Regions from separate parts of the Homo sapiens genome. Here region 2 is linked to region 1. Evidence: fine-mapped expression QTL. A gene starts in region 1. The other region holds a variant in brackets. All regions are shown on one strand. Distances are between the middles of the regions. Region 1 holds the start of ARID5A (AT-rich interaction domain 5A). Region 2 holds the start of KANSL3 (KAT8 regulatory NSL complex subunit 3).

Region 1 (8,323 bases):
CCTTGCCCTCCGTTCCCCTCCCCCAGGGGAATTCAGCTTCCACCCTTCAGGCTCAGGAAGTTCAGAACCATGGGTTTCTACCCTGCTGGGACACACTGGGGAGATGTGGGGTGGAGAGGGGAAACCAGCCCAGCCCTGGCCCAACACAGGAAATCTTTCCAGATTGGCTGGAGGTTGGAGGGAACCTAGAGCCAGGTGCAGATGCAGCTTCCAGTGTGGACAAAGCTTGGGAAGCTGGTTTACACGCGCCCTGGGGTACAGTGGCCAAAGCTCTTTCAGGCAGGAAGTTGGCCCTTGGTGATCTGGGACTCACAACCACCTCCCCACTCCTTCACCCCCAGCAGTTCCCCAAAGGCCAAAAGCTATTCTTGTCTTTTTCTAAAAGAGGCATTTGAACCATGAGCCAATTTTTTCCATTCCTGAGCTTGGGTATCATCTATTTCGGGCATTTGTTGTTTTCCATGAGTTGCAAATGCTGCTGTGAAGCTGGCCTTTCCTGGACAGCTAGCACGGGGAACGAGGAGTTAGGCAAGCAGGGCGGGGCCGCGTTAAAAATACTTCCCCACTTCATTTCTCCTTTGAAAACAAACCCCCAGGGGCCTTTGGCAACTGCTGAGCCTGGGAACTGAGCTTCCCAGGATAGAAGACTGGCTGTGCATTCTGTTTCCTGAGGGCACTGGATGGGTTTGCAGGTCCCAGAAGAAACAAAAGCACTGATTTTGCTGTGTGACTTTGGACAGTTTGCTTAACCTCTCTGGCCTGGTGACCTCCTTTCTAAAATGAGACCAGGTGGACAGATGATCTTGAATGGTCCCTATATCTCTGAGAGCTCCAGGATGAGAACCACCCCCAGGGCCAGATTTTCTTCCTAGAAATGGGCTAACAAGAGGTGCTAGGACATGGAGGTGGGAGTTAGAAAGCAGCTTTTAGCTCAGTCTCTGGGAACACTTTGTGAGCTCCTTAGCCCTGGAACTGTTCTAAGGGGGTCTATAATGTTCTCAGCAGGATTCATGTAATTGCAAAAAGATTAAACGCTATCAAGAGGAGATTAAATACACTGTGCTGGGCACACAGCCCAGCAGTTCCCAAAGAAGCAGATCTGTGTTCCAACAAGGAAAGTCTGTAAGATCTAGCGGTGATCGAAAAAGCAAGTTTCAGAATGGAGCAATGAGAATTGTATCGTTTCTTTAAACACACACATAAAACAAAGCTATCTATTTTTCTATACCATGGATACATATATAGTTTTGAAAATACACATAGGGAAAGTTCTGGAAGACTTCACCCAATCTGATGGGTCTTTACCTCTGGGGCAGGGAGGGAACTGGATTTGGTGTAGCATCAGAGAGGGCTGATTTACTTGCATGTTTTTACAGGACGAATGTGTTTATTTATAAGTGATGGTTTGTTTTTCTTATTATTAAGACACACAGAGAGACACCAGGACACTGAGGGGCTAGCTGACCCCCTCTGTAGGCACAGAGGCGTCCTGGCCTGGGATCCTGTGGTTGGAGGGTGCAGAGGAGGGTGGCTTTGGGCCGGAGTGGAGGTGTGTGAGATGGAGGCTTGAGCAATGGAAGTGTTTATGCTTTTAGCCAGATGAATGGAGATGTCTGTTTTCTGCAGGATTTACTGGCCATTGTAAATTACTTTCTATTGCAAACAGTTGCCTCAGGAAGCAATTAAATTTAGATCCTATCGTTCCCAGGCTGGCACAGGCAGGTGTTGACTTGCTGAGGCTTTGCACAACAGCCCTTGTCTGTCAGAATGTGCCCAGCTGCCCGGATGGCAGAATAACCCTAACTCTTGGTGGGATGAGCTGCTGTCTTATAAGATAGTGAGTTCCTTGTCATTAGGGGTATCCAACCCACAAGTGAGGGGTTGGCCTAGATTGTGACCCCGGGGGCTGCATCCAGAGCTCCATCCCCAACCTTGGGCATAGTGCCTGCCAATCAATGCTTCCAGAATGTACAAAGGTGCTTCCTGATGGCATCCCATCATAGTGTCTTCCACCACAGCCTTAGCTTTCCTGGAGGGGAAAGTGGCTTGTAAACTTGCCAAAGTGGGATGCATTGTTATAATTACCATTATGATTGTTCTGGGTGTCTATTACCAATTCTACAGGTGCTGGCTCTTACAAGCCAACCCATTATGAGGTAGACAGGGGATTTATCCTGCAGAGCCCACAGGGTCGTCTGCTCTAGACTGAGCCTGCAGACATCTTCCATCCCAGGGCCAAAGGGTAAGGGCCAGGGTTTCAGGTTCACCAAACTGCAGCCCTGGTCCCTTCGTTTAGTGTGAGGAGGGGCACCAGTATGATGAGTGGTTAGTAATGGGTGCAAAGCGGGTGGGGGGATGCCTGGGTATGAGGGCTCCTCTTCCTGGGTCTAGCTCTGGCTCCAACACCTACCAGCTGTGCTACTTGAGCTAATCTCTCAGACCTCAGTTTTACGCTATAAAATGAGGACAATGATGGTGTCAAGTGCATAGAGCTATTATGAGTATTAAAATTCATCAACAAAGATTTTTGTGTAGCTTCTATGTGCTAGGAACAGGGTTCCCATCCTAGCTAGCCACCTGCTGAGACTGAAACCCTGAGCCTCCATTTCTTCCTCTTTGGCCTGCACAGGTCCAGGTTGCTGCTATGGCTGGCTGGGCACCTCCTCCTGCCTCCATTCGCCCTAGGCCTCATTCCCACCTCCCACAGCCTGAACTCATGCCCCTTCTTTGGACTACTCAGCTTGTAGCTGCCACACTCTGTCTGCATTATGTGTGTGGACATTGACTATTACTGGCAGGCCTGGCCACAGAGCCTAGGCCAAGGATTTACTAGTTTGGTCCTTGTCTAGCTCACACTAACCACCTCTCCTTTTTTTTTTTTTTTTTTTTTTTTTTTTTTTTTTTGAGGCAGGGTCTCCGTCTATTGCCCAGGATCCAGGATAGAGTGCAGTGGTGTGATCAAAACACACTGCAGCCTCGACCTTCTGGGCTCAAGTGATCCTCCCGCCTCCGCCTCCCAAAGCAGGGATTCCAGGCGTGAGCCGCCGCTCCCGGCCTCACCTGGCCTTCTTTGTTGGGCTAGGTGGGGACTGGGAAATGCACAGGGCCACTTTCAAATCAAAGTCAGAAGCACTTTGCTCGCTCCACAGAGTCCTCAGTGCTCTGCTGAAAGCAAGGAGGCTTTTTCCAAGGCTCTAGTTTTGCCTCCAGGGAAACTGAGGCACAAGGCAGCAATGATTACTGAGGGTCCTGCCTCCGCTCCTCTAGGTGAGGAGCCTATTCCAGGGGCTCCAGTCTGAAAGCCTAGAGGCGAGGGGCGCGCACTACAATTCCCAGAGGTCCCCGGACTCAAGGGCGGTCCCCGCCCCCCGCCTTCTCCGCGCGACGAAGCCGGGCTTACCAATGGGAGCCCGGAGTGGGGCGAGCAGGGGCGGGACGGGGCGGGACTGCGGGGAGGTGGCCGGCGGGCCGCGCCGCGAGCCAGTATCTCAGAGAGCGCGGGGTCCGGACAGCCGCGCGCTGAGGGTCTCGGGGCGGGCGCCGCGGGACCTCTCCGGGCCATGGGTAAGCGGCTCTGCGGCGCGGCCCGGACAGGGGCTCGGCGGCCCTGCAGGGAGGTTCAAGGTGCCGGCGCCGGGTCCCCTCCAGCCCTCGTGGCAGTCGGTGCGCTGTGTGGGGCGGAGAGGGGCCCGGGGTGGGTTTCGGGGCGCGGGCCAAGGGGAGCGAGCCCGGCCCGCGGCTTCAGCGCTCCCCGGCCGGCGCGGAAGGGGTGAGGCTGGGCGTCCGCGCGAGCTTCGAGAAAAGGAAAGACAAAAAGTTTTGGCGGCCAGGGGCTTCCCGGGCGTTTATCTCGAAACTCTTTTCGCCGTCTCTTGCCTGAAATATGCCGAGCCCGGTACGGCTCTGTCGTCCCACTTCCTGCTGCGGTTTCCACCTCGAGCTGGGCTCAGCTAATTTGTTGTGACAGCTGTCGGCAGCCGCCCCTCCGCCCCGTGACATCCCGCAGGTTTCAGAACCGCGGCGCCGCCGGGCACAGACTCCGGGTCCAGAGCGCGCGGCCCTTTCCTCTGCGGCCGCCGTTTCCTGAAAGGGGCTGCGCGGGTGTGAAGAACTTGCTCAATGCGCTTTGTAGGATCCACTGTTCCTCTTTCGGCCGCGGGCTGCGCCGATGGTCCGGGGAGCCCGGCTTCTCGCCCCCTGCCCCTTCCTTCTCTTCCCTTTTCTCTTTTCCTCTCCTGTCTCTCCGCCCACCCGCCGCAGCCCCACAGGAGAGGGGTCGCTTCCCTGGTTGCTCTCCTCTCCTGTCCCTTGTGTGTCCCCTTGTCTTCCCTCGGTCTGCAGAAGGGACGGGGTGGCGGCTGGGGAGCGTCAGGGGAAGAGGGCAAGAGCGTGGGCTACGAGCTTGCAGGCGATGCCCGGCTTCGCGCTCGGCGGGAGCTGCGGGCCAACCCGGGCCCGCGCTCCGTCCCTCCGCGGTGTCTAGGGGTCGCCCGGGCTGGGGTCGCGTCACCCTCCGCCCAGCGCCGGCGTGGTGGGGCTTGCGCGGTGCAGGACCCCCGAGGGCCCAGGGGGTCCCAAGGCGCTGCGGGTCCAGTGTCCCTTTGTTTGCAGAGTCTTGGGCCAGTAAGGAGTGCTCCGCGGGCCCCAGGGGAGGACAACAGGTGCCTCTTGCCCCACCCGGGCTCCTCTGGTGGGAGCCCACACGCACGGTGGCGTCACTGCGCCTACAGGCAACGCTAGAGCACAGGAGGGGTGGGAGGTCGGGGCTCGAGGGCTTCACCCCGCAGCAGAGCTCAGAGCCCAATCCAGGCCTTAGGGACCCGCCTGGGGCCTAGAACTTGGTGTGGCAGAGGTAGAAAGGGCCTCCGATAATCTGCTTCTACAGTTGAGAGACGTCAACTGGCACCTCTGAGCCTCTGCCCCGTAGGTGAAATGGGAACACACGAAACCATCTGAGGAGCTCTCACTGTCCGTCACCACCAAATGTGGCCCAGACTCCGTGGGGAGGGACAGTCCCATCCTGGAACTGGGGCTTTTAGGACATCCCAGAGCCCGGTAAGAGGGACAGGGAGAATGGGGCTTGGAAGTTGGTAGCCTCACATTCAGTGTCCCCCGCACCTCCTTCCCTTTCTGTACCCTCTGGTGGCTCTTGTGGCCTCAGCTGCCCCCAGACCCTGTCTCTCTCGCCCTCCCCCAAGCTGAGGTACTGAGGTTGGGCTGTGGCTTGAGCTGCACCTGTGCCCTGTTAGGGAGTGGGGGTCCCAGGCCCATCGCGTTTCTTCTCACTGCTGGCTCCAGCTCAACACTTGGCAGGCCCCCCTCCCCAAACTGCTGGAGCAAGCTCGCGTAGACTCGGCCTGGCCGCCGCTCCCGGGCTGCCGAGTGGACCGGCCGTTTCGCCGCTTCAAAGGCTGTCTTTGTTTTGCTCCAGCTCAAGCTTAGAGAAACTTAAGCCAACAACCTCAGCCGAGGGGGCGGGGCGGCGTCTGCTGGTTGTTATTGAGGCTGCTGTTACCATTATTGTGGTAATTGACGCAGTGTTCCCAGTCGGTGACTTTTCATGAAAGGAAGTGTCACTTCCTTCCCATCACACCCAGGGTGAGTGGGGCGGGCAGCAGAAAGATGGGGAGGGAGAGAAGGAAAGGGGTGTGTGCCTCCAGCAGACCCTTAAACTTGAGAGCTGTGTGGCCTTGTACTAGTCACTGCCCCTCTCTGGGCAACAGGGGTCTGTAAGTCCATTGCGCTCATCCTGCACCCAGGAGGCTGATGTTTCCGGAGCACCTGCTGGGCAGCGAGGTGCCTTGGGGAGGGAGCAGGACAGGCAGGCCTCTGATCTTCTCACTGAGCCTGGCTGTGGTTTGTGGGGGAAGCCTCCTTTCTCTTCTCACTTTTTTCTGCTGAGAACATTGGGCACATTGAGTCTAGCACGCCCATCTTGTAGATGGGGAAAGGGAGATACAGAACCAGTGACCAACTTGGTAAGAGGTGCAGCCATGCAGTGCTGGAACCCCTTGCCCCATCTGTCCTCTTGGCCCACTTTCATCTGCTTCCAGCTTGATGTCTGGCAGGGCAGGGGCCCACTGACTTCCCCGCATCCACCCACTGCCTGGCCCCATAGCTACCTTCTAGTCCTGGCTAAGCCCCGTGAGACATCTTAAGTTTGTCTTCAGTGACTCTCAACCACCGCCCGACTGCCTTCACCTTCCTGCCTTTGCATACCTGCCTTTGCTTCGCCAGGTTGGTTGGGCCCTGGCCAGAGCTGGCCCCCTACTCTCTCAGGTAACAGGTAGCAGTTTTTTAAATGGAATCTCAGTAGGTATCAACAGGTCTTTCCTCCTTCCTCAAGATTATGGAGATAACACCCCTTATTCAAAGATGGTGGGTCCTCTGGGCCCTCCCCGACCCAGGCCAGGGAAGTTGATTCATAGAGTGTGGGGGCCATGCCCCTTCCCGGCCCTCCCCCTCTCCCCGCTGCTGCCCAGCTCTCTGACCAGCCCCCTCCCATCCCTGAGCCTGGATGCCTTAGCAGTCAACACAGACCTGCTCTTGTTAGCAGAGTGACAGGAGCGATGTGCTGGGAAACTGCACATCTACTTGGGGAAAGGGGACAAGTTTGCATCCTCTGAGCACAGATAAGGAACTTGAGGTCTCCCTGCTCCCATTAGAAAGAAAAAAATCTCTAGCTCTCAGGGATCAGCGTCTCTCAGGAGTCAGACTACCCTGGTTCTGAATCCCAGCTCTGCCATGGATAAGCTCTGTGGCCCCAGGCAAGTTACTGAACCTCTCTGAGCCTCAGACATTATATCTGTTATATCTGGATGGCTGGGAAGATTCAGCAATGCAATGTTGTATGAGATGCCTAGCCCACACCAGCCAGGGCACTGATTTGAGTCGGTGGAGCATGTAACTTGAGAACAAGTAGACCTATGGGAGCATCCTCTACTGGAGGCAGTGACAGACTAACATCTTCAGTGCTGGAGTTTTAGGATCTGGGAGTTGAGCTTGACTCAGACAGGAGCTATGGAGTTGGAAAGAAATCAGACTCATAGCACAGGAAGAGCCTCAGGCAATCCTCCTGCCCAGCACCCTGCCGCACCCCCTCTCTGCTTAGTAAGGGACTGGGTCACTAGGAGCCCAGGCTCATCTTCTGGCGCAGCCACCTAGCCTGCCTCGGCCCTCTTCCCAGCAGTGAAATGAGGAAATCGCAGGGGGGCTTTTGTGGAGTGAACTACTGTTATCAGGGTTTTTCTAACACCATTTTCTAGCTGCACAAAACTCAAGGAACAAACTAGGAATAAACCTCCCCAAGAAAGCACAGGGGCTTTTTAAGAAGGAACTTCTGAGGACTGCAGAGGGAAACCTGAATTATGGAGACACATGGTCCTGAAAAGAAAGATGCAATACTGTAAAGGTATTATTTCTCCTCAAAGTAGTTTCTAAATTTAAATGCAATCAAAGCCCCAGTAGTGGGGGTTTTTTGTTTGTTTGTTTGTTTGTTTTGGAGACGGAGTCTCTGTCACCCAGGCTGGAGTGCAGTGGCCTAATCTCAGCTCACTGCAACCTCCACCTCCTGGGTTCAAGCAATTCTCCTGCCTCAGCCTCCCGAGTAGCTGGGATTATTGGCGTGTGCCACCACGCCCACTAATTTTTGTATTTGTAGTGGAGATGGGGTTTCACCATGTTGGCCAGGCTGGTCTCGAGCTCCTTACCTCAAGTGATCTGCCTGCCTTGGCCTCCCAAAGTGCCAGGATTACAGGCGTGAGCCACCGCACCTGGCCTTTTTTTTTTTTGAGAAGGAATCTCGCTCTGTCGCCAGGCTGGAATGCAGTGGCGCGAGCTCAGCTCACTGCAACCTCCACCTCCTGGGTTCAAGCGATTCTCCTGCCTCAGCCTCCTGAGTAGCTGGGACTACAGGCATGCGCCACCACCCCCAGCTAATTTTTGTATTTTTAGTAGAGACGAGGTTTCACCATGTTGGCCAGGATGGTCTCGATCTCTTGACCTCATGATCTGCCCGCCTCGGCCTCCCAAAGTGTTTTTGTTTTTGTTTTTTTTTAAAGGGAATGTAACAGAATTATCCCAAAGTTCAAATGGAATATTTTTAAAAGATGAGTAATATTGGGCAACTTGCCCTCTGGATAGTAAGTTGTTTTATAAAGCTACAAAAATTAAAACAGTGTGCACAGGTCCTAGCATCCCACTGTGGATGAGACAGAATAGAAAGTCCAGAAATAGTCCCAGATGTGTTCCTTATAAGCACTGACATTATGGGGAAAGTAGCATTTTACACCATTGGAGGAGGAGGCTACTCACTGGGGCCCCC
Region 2 (8,323 bases), 100 kb after region 1:
ACAAGATATCACGATTTCTGGCCCATCTCAGTCCATTGCAGTGGCAGCCTGCAGCTGGTCTTGTAAGTTCTACTCCTGCACTATAATATACTCAACAAAAAATCCAAAATGATCTTTTTAAAGTATAAATTGAATCTCTAGTTTAAGATCCTTCAGTGACTTCTTACCACTCTTAGAATCAAATTCCTTCACGAGGTAACCCTTGCCAACTTCTCCCTACCTCCCACTTATACCCCTACTGCTATTATATTCTGGCCACACTGGCCTAAAAGAGTTCTTACAGCATGCCAAATTCTCACTTTCAGGGTCTATATTTGGAGACAGAGATTATAAAAGGAAACAATTTTCTAAGTACCAAAAGAACCAAGTCCACAGAATCTCACTTTAAGAAAATGTCATGAGATGTGGACACAGGAGTTTTAATGTCAGCAAGAAGCTAATATGCAGCAAAAAAGGAAAAGACTTCAACTACTATTTAAAGGAGCTTTTCAGTTATGCCCTAGGCCAGAGGCATCAAGATTATGCTAAATTATTGCCTAAAGTTACAGATTTTATCTCCTGTACACCAAAAAAGCCAACAAAATTATAAAGTCATTGGGAAATGAAATAAAAGACACTATTCTGCACATGTTTAAAACACACAGTGGGTCAGGAGCGGTGGCTCATGCCTGTAATCCCAGCATTTTGGGAGGCCGAGGCGGGTGGATTGCCTGAGGTCAGGAGTTCGAGACCAGCCTGGCTAACATGGTGGGTGGAAACCCTGTCTCTACTAAAAATACAAAAATTAGCCAGGCACAGTGGCACACGCCGGTAGTCCCAGCTACTCAGGAGGCTGAGGCAGGAGAATCGCTCAAACCCAGGAGGTGGAGGTTGCAGTGAGCCAAGATCACACCACTGCACTCCAGCCTGGGCGACAGAGCAAGACTCCATCTCAAAAAAAAAAAAAACCACACACACACATTGTGGTATCTCTAACTCATTAGGTCATTAAGTCTCAATTCCAGGAGGGGTGACTCTAAAGAAGCCTCTACAAGGGCTCTAACCCCCAACAAAATTAAAACCAGTGCTTAAGGAAAGATTAAACATTAGGTCAGATTAAAAACAAACAGACAAAACTCTTCTCCAAAAGTTTACAAAATTATTAAGGACATGATTTGATCACCATAACGGAATATATCAACACATCATGAAACATAATTAGAATGCCTTAAAGTGCAAAAGAACTGGCAAACAGGTTTATTTAGACCAAATGTAACTGTATCACTCATCAGGTAGTCAATTTATGAAACTTCCTTACCCTATAACATAGGCTGGGTGAAAATATCATTAGACATAAGAAGGGTTTAGATTAACCTATGGATAGCAGCTCTGTAACAAGGGAAGAGAAAAAGCAACGTCTTGGGAATTGGCTCCTAACCTTCGTGTGTGAAACCAAGAAAAGCAAAATGCATTACTATAAAAAGGCTATTGTTGCCACTGTCAAGCAACCCAGAGCACTGGACTAATGTGATAAAAGAGTCGTATCCTGTGGGTAATCTTTTAAAATCAACTTTTCAGTCTTTTTCTTCACCAGTTAAATAACCCTCTACGATTTTCCCCTTTCCACACGTCCTACTATCTAAGTGGAATAGGTTGTCTGCTTTTCATTTGCACGTCTTGCTTTCCTAACTCTTGTTAGCTGTCTCACAGAGATAGCCACATTCAAGCCTGCTATCCTTATGCTGCTTAAGAGATGCCTGAATTTAACATCCAAATGCCTCATACAATCTCCCCCAGTCAATCCTGAGAAAATCCTCTCTAAATTCCCATCTGATCACTGCCCAGTGAGGTTACCAGCAGCCCTTAGAAGCCCCAACTCACATGGTACTTTCGTGCTGCCGCCGGGGAGTGACAAAGAGCATGCGGGTGGGGCGGGCACTACTGGCATCTGGGTGGGCACTCCAAGGCTTGGCATAGCTATGATCCAGAAAAACCAGGTCCAGCTCCCGTTCATGCACTGAAAGCTGGAAGAGCAGCGAGGTGCCCATGCGTCGAGCTGAAGTCTGGAAGTCCCTCTCCCCACCCCGGTGGGCCATGTCAGTGGAGGGGCAGAAAGTCAGAGCATGGGTATCTGCATGCTAGTCACCTGCAGTGAAAAGTTTCAGTTTAGGTCAATTCCAATATCCTAAATTTCTCCCAATCTACACCATCTAACATGCTTACTTTTGTAACCTACTATCATTCCTATTGAGTATCCATTTCACGGCAGACCTCTGGTGGGGACGGTTCGTGGAATCCCACACCAACACCAAAAAAAAAGAAAAAAAAAACTATGGTGCCACGAGTTGTCCCATACTCAACCTCTAGCGAACTGAAATTACCTAACGGGAGAGCTCACCGACCCCAAGGTTCAGAAAGACCTCGCGTGGACAGACAGTAAACTTGCTTGGCCAGCACCACTTCCTAGGTGGGCAGGAAGGGTTTTGACAAACAGGAAATCACAAATATGAATTCGTTGAAAGCTAAGGATCTCTGTTGCTTCACACCATCCTCTAACGACAATGCGAAGGGAGCCGGGGCCGCAGCTAGAGCGTGGGCACCCCTAAAGGGCAGGGCAACGCCGGCCTCAAAAAAGCGAATCCCAGCTAGGGCTCCACTTCTTCAAGCCTCTCGTATTGTGCGAAACAAAAGTTCTGTTAAGTACTTCGTAATATTCCAGAGTTGTTTACATAAAAATGAAAACTGCCCCCCCAACAAAGCCTGTGACAAAATGATCCCCGTGGAAGCCCTTTCACCCTCACCCCCAGTGAGGCGTCCCTAGCAAACCGCCCAGGACCCCGGCTGCCCCGCAGGCGTTCCCGCCACTGAGCCTCCACACGGCCCATCTAGGAGACAGGGCTATGACTCGCATTTTACAGACGAAGTCGCCAGCTCGGGGAACTGAAGCGATTTGGCCAAGGTCATCCAGAGTTCGCGACGAGGAGGAGCCGCCTGGCCCCCGCCTCCCGCCTCCCGCTCCCTGGGGCAGGGCTCGGCGTCCGCGTCACGGAGGCCCAGACGCGGCCCCTGCCAGCCCGCCCCCGGCCCGACCCGCCCCGCCCGACCAGCACCGGCAGCCGGCCCTAGCCCGGGCCCCCGCATGCCCCGGGAGCCCTGAAGCCCTCGCCGAGACCCCCGGCCGTCCCAACCACGGCCGCGATCCCCACGGCCCGCCACTCCCCTCGAAGCCAACGCTGCTCTCACCCGCGGTCTTACGGCCGCGCGCTCGGCCACGGCCGGATCCCTAAGCGCGTGCGCGTTAACGCCTCCACGCCCCGGCGCTGCGGGCACCGAGTAAAACGCGGAAGCGGGTTACGGCCTGGGAAGGGAGAGGCGGTGAGCGGCAAAGCCCGGAACGGATGAA[G/C]CTCCGGCGCCTCTGTCCGGAAGAGGAGAGCCAAGAACACGCGAGCATGTCCGAAGCAGAAAGTCAACAACTAGGCTGGAGTTTCCCCCTCGCGCATATTCAGTAGGGAAAGCGAGGGCGGAGGACTAGGCTGGCTTCTACGGCCCCAGTTCTCGCCACCCCCACCGTGTTGGTCCTTTGTGCCCTCTGGGCGGTCGAGCACCCAACGGTCCACCTCCACCAGGGCAGCCACCTGAATTTACTCATTAAGAATTTACCTAATGTGGCTCACGCCTGTAATCCCAGCGCTTTGGGAGGCCTAGGCGGGAGGACCTCTTGAGCTCAGGAGTTTGAGATGAGCCTGGCCAATATGATGAGACCCCCGTATCTACAAAAAATTTTAGAAATTAGGTGTGTGTGATAGTGGTGTATGCCTGTAGTCCCAGCTACCCGGGAGGCTGAGGTGGGAGGATCACTTGAGTCTGGGAGGTCCAGGCTGCAATGAGCCATGGTTGCACCACTGCACTCCAGCCTGGACGACGGAGTGAGACTACGTCTCAAAAAAAAAAAAAAAGAATTTTGTTACTGACCCTAGATTGTTTTGTGTGGTTAACTTTCCTATGTGTTTTGTGTAGAGAGAGTAGATCCTCAAAATCAGGGACATTAACCTTTGTATCCTCCAGAGAACATACACCCAGAACATAGGTAATTGTTCAAATGTTGACTGATCAATAATTGGTTATTTGGTTGACTGACTGACAACATGACATCAAGAGACATGAGACAAGACAGCAAGAGACATGGTTCAAGATGATAAATCTCACCCGGGATCTGTGGCTCATGCCTATAATCCCAGTACTTTGGGAGGCCAAGGTGGGAAGATTGCTTGAGCCCAAGAGTTCAAGACTAGCCTGCACAAAACAGTGAGACTTCGTTTCTATTTAAAAAAAGAAATGGCCGGGTGCGGTGGCTCACGCCTGTAATCCCAGCACTTTGGGAGGCTGAGGAGGGTGGATCACGAGTTCAGGAGTACAAAACCAGCCTGGCCAACATAGCGAAATCCTGTCTCTACTAAAAATACAAAAATTAGCCAGGTGTGGTGGCGCATGCCTGTAATCCCGGCTACTCGGGAGGCTGAGGTGGGAGAATCTCTCAAACTCAGGAGGCAGAGGTTGCGGTGAGCCAAAATCGCGCCATTGCACTCCAGCCTGGGCGACACAGCAAGACTCTGTCTCAAAAAAAAAAAAAAGATAGGTACAGACATGCAAACACTCGAAACATTCAGAAAGCCACTCAAAGCTGTGTTCCACAAAGATGAGAGGGTAAACTGAGAAGACGGAAGGCATAGGATCGGGGAAGCAGGGTCTAACACAAGAAGCAGACGAGGAATTCTGAAGGTGATGGCAAAGAGTATCCCAGGACAATAGCTATGCTGCAGGACTGGGGACCACTAGTCTCAGCTGGGGGAGAAGAGAAGACCAGGAGGGAGAGCCCCGGGGAAAACAATAAAACTGGGAAAATGCCTCATAGATTTGAAAAAATCAAGGAATGCTATTTAAAAGTGCTGTTTAGAAATATGGAGCTTAAGGCCATAGAAATTATCACAAATAGAGCAGCCCCTGCCCCACCTCTCCCTACCCTTAACTTTGTCTCCTGGGCGCTTGTTTGGGGCCAGGGTTCTGCTATTTCTCTACTTATATTCCCATTCCCACTAAAAACAGATTTGTATCTTTTCTCTGCCCCTTCCTTTCCTCAGCACACCACGTTTATCATTTTGTTTCATTCTTTGCCAATTTAAGAGGTGATAAATGGTATCTTATCCCATTTATTTGCTTATTAATGAGTTTTTTGTTTTGTTTTGTTTTTGTTTTTTTGAGACAGAGTCTCTCTCTGTCGCCCAGGCTGGAGTGCAGTAGCGTGATCTCGGCTCACTGCAACCTCCACCTCCCTGGTTCAAGCGATTCTCCTGCCTCAGCCTCCCGAGTAGCTGAGACCACAGGCGTGTGCCACCATGCTCGGATAATTTTTTGTATTTTTAGTAGAGACGGGGTTTCACTGTGTTAGCCCGGATGGTCTCGATCTCCTGACCTCGTGATCCGCCCGCCTTGGCCTCCCAAAGTGCTGGGATTACAGGCGTGAGCCACCGTGCCCAGTGAGTTTGATTTTTTTTTTTTACATCTTTTTTGGCTTTTGAAACCAATTTGGCAAAGTCATAAATTGTATTTCATTGTATTTCTTTGATTATTAACAAGACTGAGGGTTTTTTAAAAAAAATTTTTTTTTGTCATTTTGGGCAATTATCTGATAGGAGCTTTGCCTTTGTTTTCCTTTGGGATAGTCATCCTTTTCTTATTAAGAGCTTGCTCTATAAACATTTATTAAATAAACTGTTGGACATTAAGTATATTGAAAATGTTTTCCCTGCTTTGATATTTGTCTTCTAGCTTTAAGGCATAATTTCTACATAGGAATTTTTTATTTAATACAGTCAAATCTGTCAGCTTTTCACTTACAGGGTCTTTTGTGTCACGCTTACTTTGAAAAGCCATTCACAAAGCGAAAAGCACTGTGTTGTGTTTAGATTTCAAGAAAAACTTCCAAGAAGCACTTTTTTTTTTAATCTGCTGCACTAGAAAGCAATCAGCACCCTGATCACTGACCCAGCGTTTCAGTCTTTGAATCCATTCATCTCTTAGACTGCGTGGTACGCTTACTGCTAAGTAGTTGTTTCATTAACTAATAGATTGTTCTTAAACATTGTTTTTTTTTTTTTTTTTTTTTTTTTTGAGACAGTCTTGCTCTGTGGCCAGGCTTGTGTGCAGTGGCGTGATCTCGGCTCACTGCAACCTCCGCCTCCCAGGTTCAAGCGATTCCCCTGCCTCAGCTCCGGAGTAGCTGGGACTACAGGCGCGCAATACCATGCCCGGCTAATTTTTTGTATTTTAGTAGGGACGGGGTTTCACCATGTTGGCCAAGATGATCTTGATCTCCTGATCTCGTGATCCGGCCGCCTTAACCTCCCAAAGATCTGGGATTACAGGCTACAGGCGTAAGCCACCACGCCCGGCCTTTTTTTTTTTTTTTTTGAGACAGAGTCTCGCTGTGTTGCCAAGGTTGGAGTGCAGTGGTGCAATCTTGGCTCACTGTGACCTCCACCTCCCAGGTTCAAGCGATTCCCCTGCCTCAGCCTCCCAAGTAGCTGGGATTGCTGGCACGTGCCACCACGCCCAGCTAATTTTTGTATTTTTAGTAGAGATGGGGTTTTGCTATGTTGGCCAGGCTGTTCCCGAACTTCTGGCCTCAAGTGATCCGTCCACCTTGGCCTCCCAAAGTGCTGGGATTACAGGCATGAGCCACCAATCCCAGCATTTAAATATTCATTAGTTTTCATTCTAACTATTGGATAAGATGTAATTTATACGATGTTCAACCCTAAAGCCTAAAAAGCCTTGCTGTGGACAATAAGAATAGGTGCCCCAGCTCCATCTTAATGCACAGAGGCTCAGACAGCCATAAAGACAGCCACTTCAAAACCGCATTGTCTTCTTTGACCTTCCATATGAGCTCATTAATTCAAAAGCTAATTTCCTTTTGTCAAAGAGGGTCTCGTATCTAAACTTAGGTTTTTCTTAGTAAAAAGGTTTCCACGTTAGGAAGAACTTTCCCTGAGACCTCACAGAAATAGTCCTTGATTTTCCTATCCCTTTTCTCAGGTCACTTCACTGTTTTCTTATTTTCTCATCTACATTGTGTGACTTTGGCAATGATTGGCTCCAGACAACTTGCTTGTACAAGGAGAAAACATCAACCTTATGTCTGACCTTGAAATCAAAAGGACGGCAAGGAGGGCAGGTGTGGGGTGGGCAAAAAAAAATTTTTTAAGGCCAGACTTGGTGGCTCACGCCTGTAATCCCAACACTTTGGGAGGCCGAGGTGGGCAGATCACCTGAGGTCGGGAGTTCGAGACCAGCCTGACCAACATGGAGAAACCCCATCTCTACTAAAAATACAAAATTAGCCGGGCGTGGTGGCGCATGCCTGTAATCTCAGCTACTCGGGAGGCTGAGGCAGGAGAATCGCTTGAACCAGGGAGGTGGAGGTTGCGGTGAGCTGAGATCGCACCATTGCACTCCAGCCTGGGCAATAAGAAAAGGGGGTGAAAGCAGCCAGGTGGTTTTGTTTCTACAGGCCCAGTCACCTATACCCTGTTCCTCCTCCCCCTTCTCTTTCCCATTAATTCCTCTCCAGAACCAAGAACCGCCCACCTTTGTGACAGCCTGTCTGTTGCTTAGCAACAGACAGGAAGTGGGGCTCCACTCACCCCAGGATCGCTGGGAAAAGTCTTGGACTGAGGAGCTCCAAAAAGGAAGCTGTGGCGCTGCGTAGGGAAGGAGGGAAGAAAGTAGGTCTCCGAGATGCTGCGGCTTGTGGTGCAGTCGGCCAAGATTGACCCACCACTAGCCCCACTACCCAGGCCCTGCATGTCCATCGACTTCAGAGGTGAGAGCCTCCCTGGGTCCACATGGGAGAGAGAAGCCCCCAGAGGCAACATGGATTCAGTGAAAAAAGAGGTGTATGGCACCCCACTACATAAAAGATGCCCTGTGTAACACAAAGTGAAGTAGACGTTGTCCAGCTCTCTCAAAACTTATTGCTATCATTTGATTATGACTTCTCTGCCTCCCACTTTTGCTAGGGAATGGCTATGGAAAAAAGAGAGGACTAGTGCTTCTGGACCTTCTTCCATGACCTGGAGCTGTGCCATAAACTAAGGTTTAAAGAGAAAGTCCCTGCTTCCTCAGATTGATGCGGGAGTTTAAAAAGATAATATGTGTATAGCCCTTAGTACAACTTTTAGTAATAACTGCTTGATCATATTAGTTTCATTTGCATGAGCTTTACAATTGACAAGGCATTATTATTATTTTTTATTTTTTATTTTTTTTGAGACAGACTGTCACT

What was found. PIP is the estimated chance that this variant, and not a neighbour inherited with it, causes the effect.
Region 2: its variant is fine-mapped to the expression of ARID5A in whole blood (INTERVAL, PIP above 0.99).

What each region holds. Positions count from the first base shown.
Region 1 is chr2:96,533,267-96,541,589 of GRCh38, forward strand. It overlaps ARID5A (AT-rich interaction domain 5A), which reads left to right and starts at 3,486. Exons shown (of 7, transcript NM_212481.3): 1 at 3,486-3,564. The coding sequence starts at 3,561. RefSeq lists silencers at 3,405-3,764, 4,445-4,654 and enhancers at 4,925-5,044, 5,262-5,807.
Region 2 is chr2:96,635,061-96,643,383 of GRCh38, forward strand. It overlaps KANSL3 (KAT8 regulatory NSL complex subunit 3), which reads right to left and starts at 3,252. Exons shown (of 21, transcript NM_001115016.3): 1 at 3,223-3,252; 2 at 1,861-2,125. The coding sequence starts at 2,075. It overlaps FER1L5 (fer-1 like family member 5), which reads left to right and starts at 7,704. Exons shown (of 53, transcript NM_001293083.2): 1 at 7,704-7,861. The coding sequence starts at 7,777. RefSeq lists an enhancer at 912-1,021 and a silencer at 2,972-3,181. The variant G/C (reference allele first, on the strand shown) is at 3,383.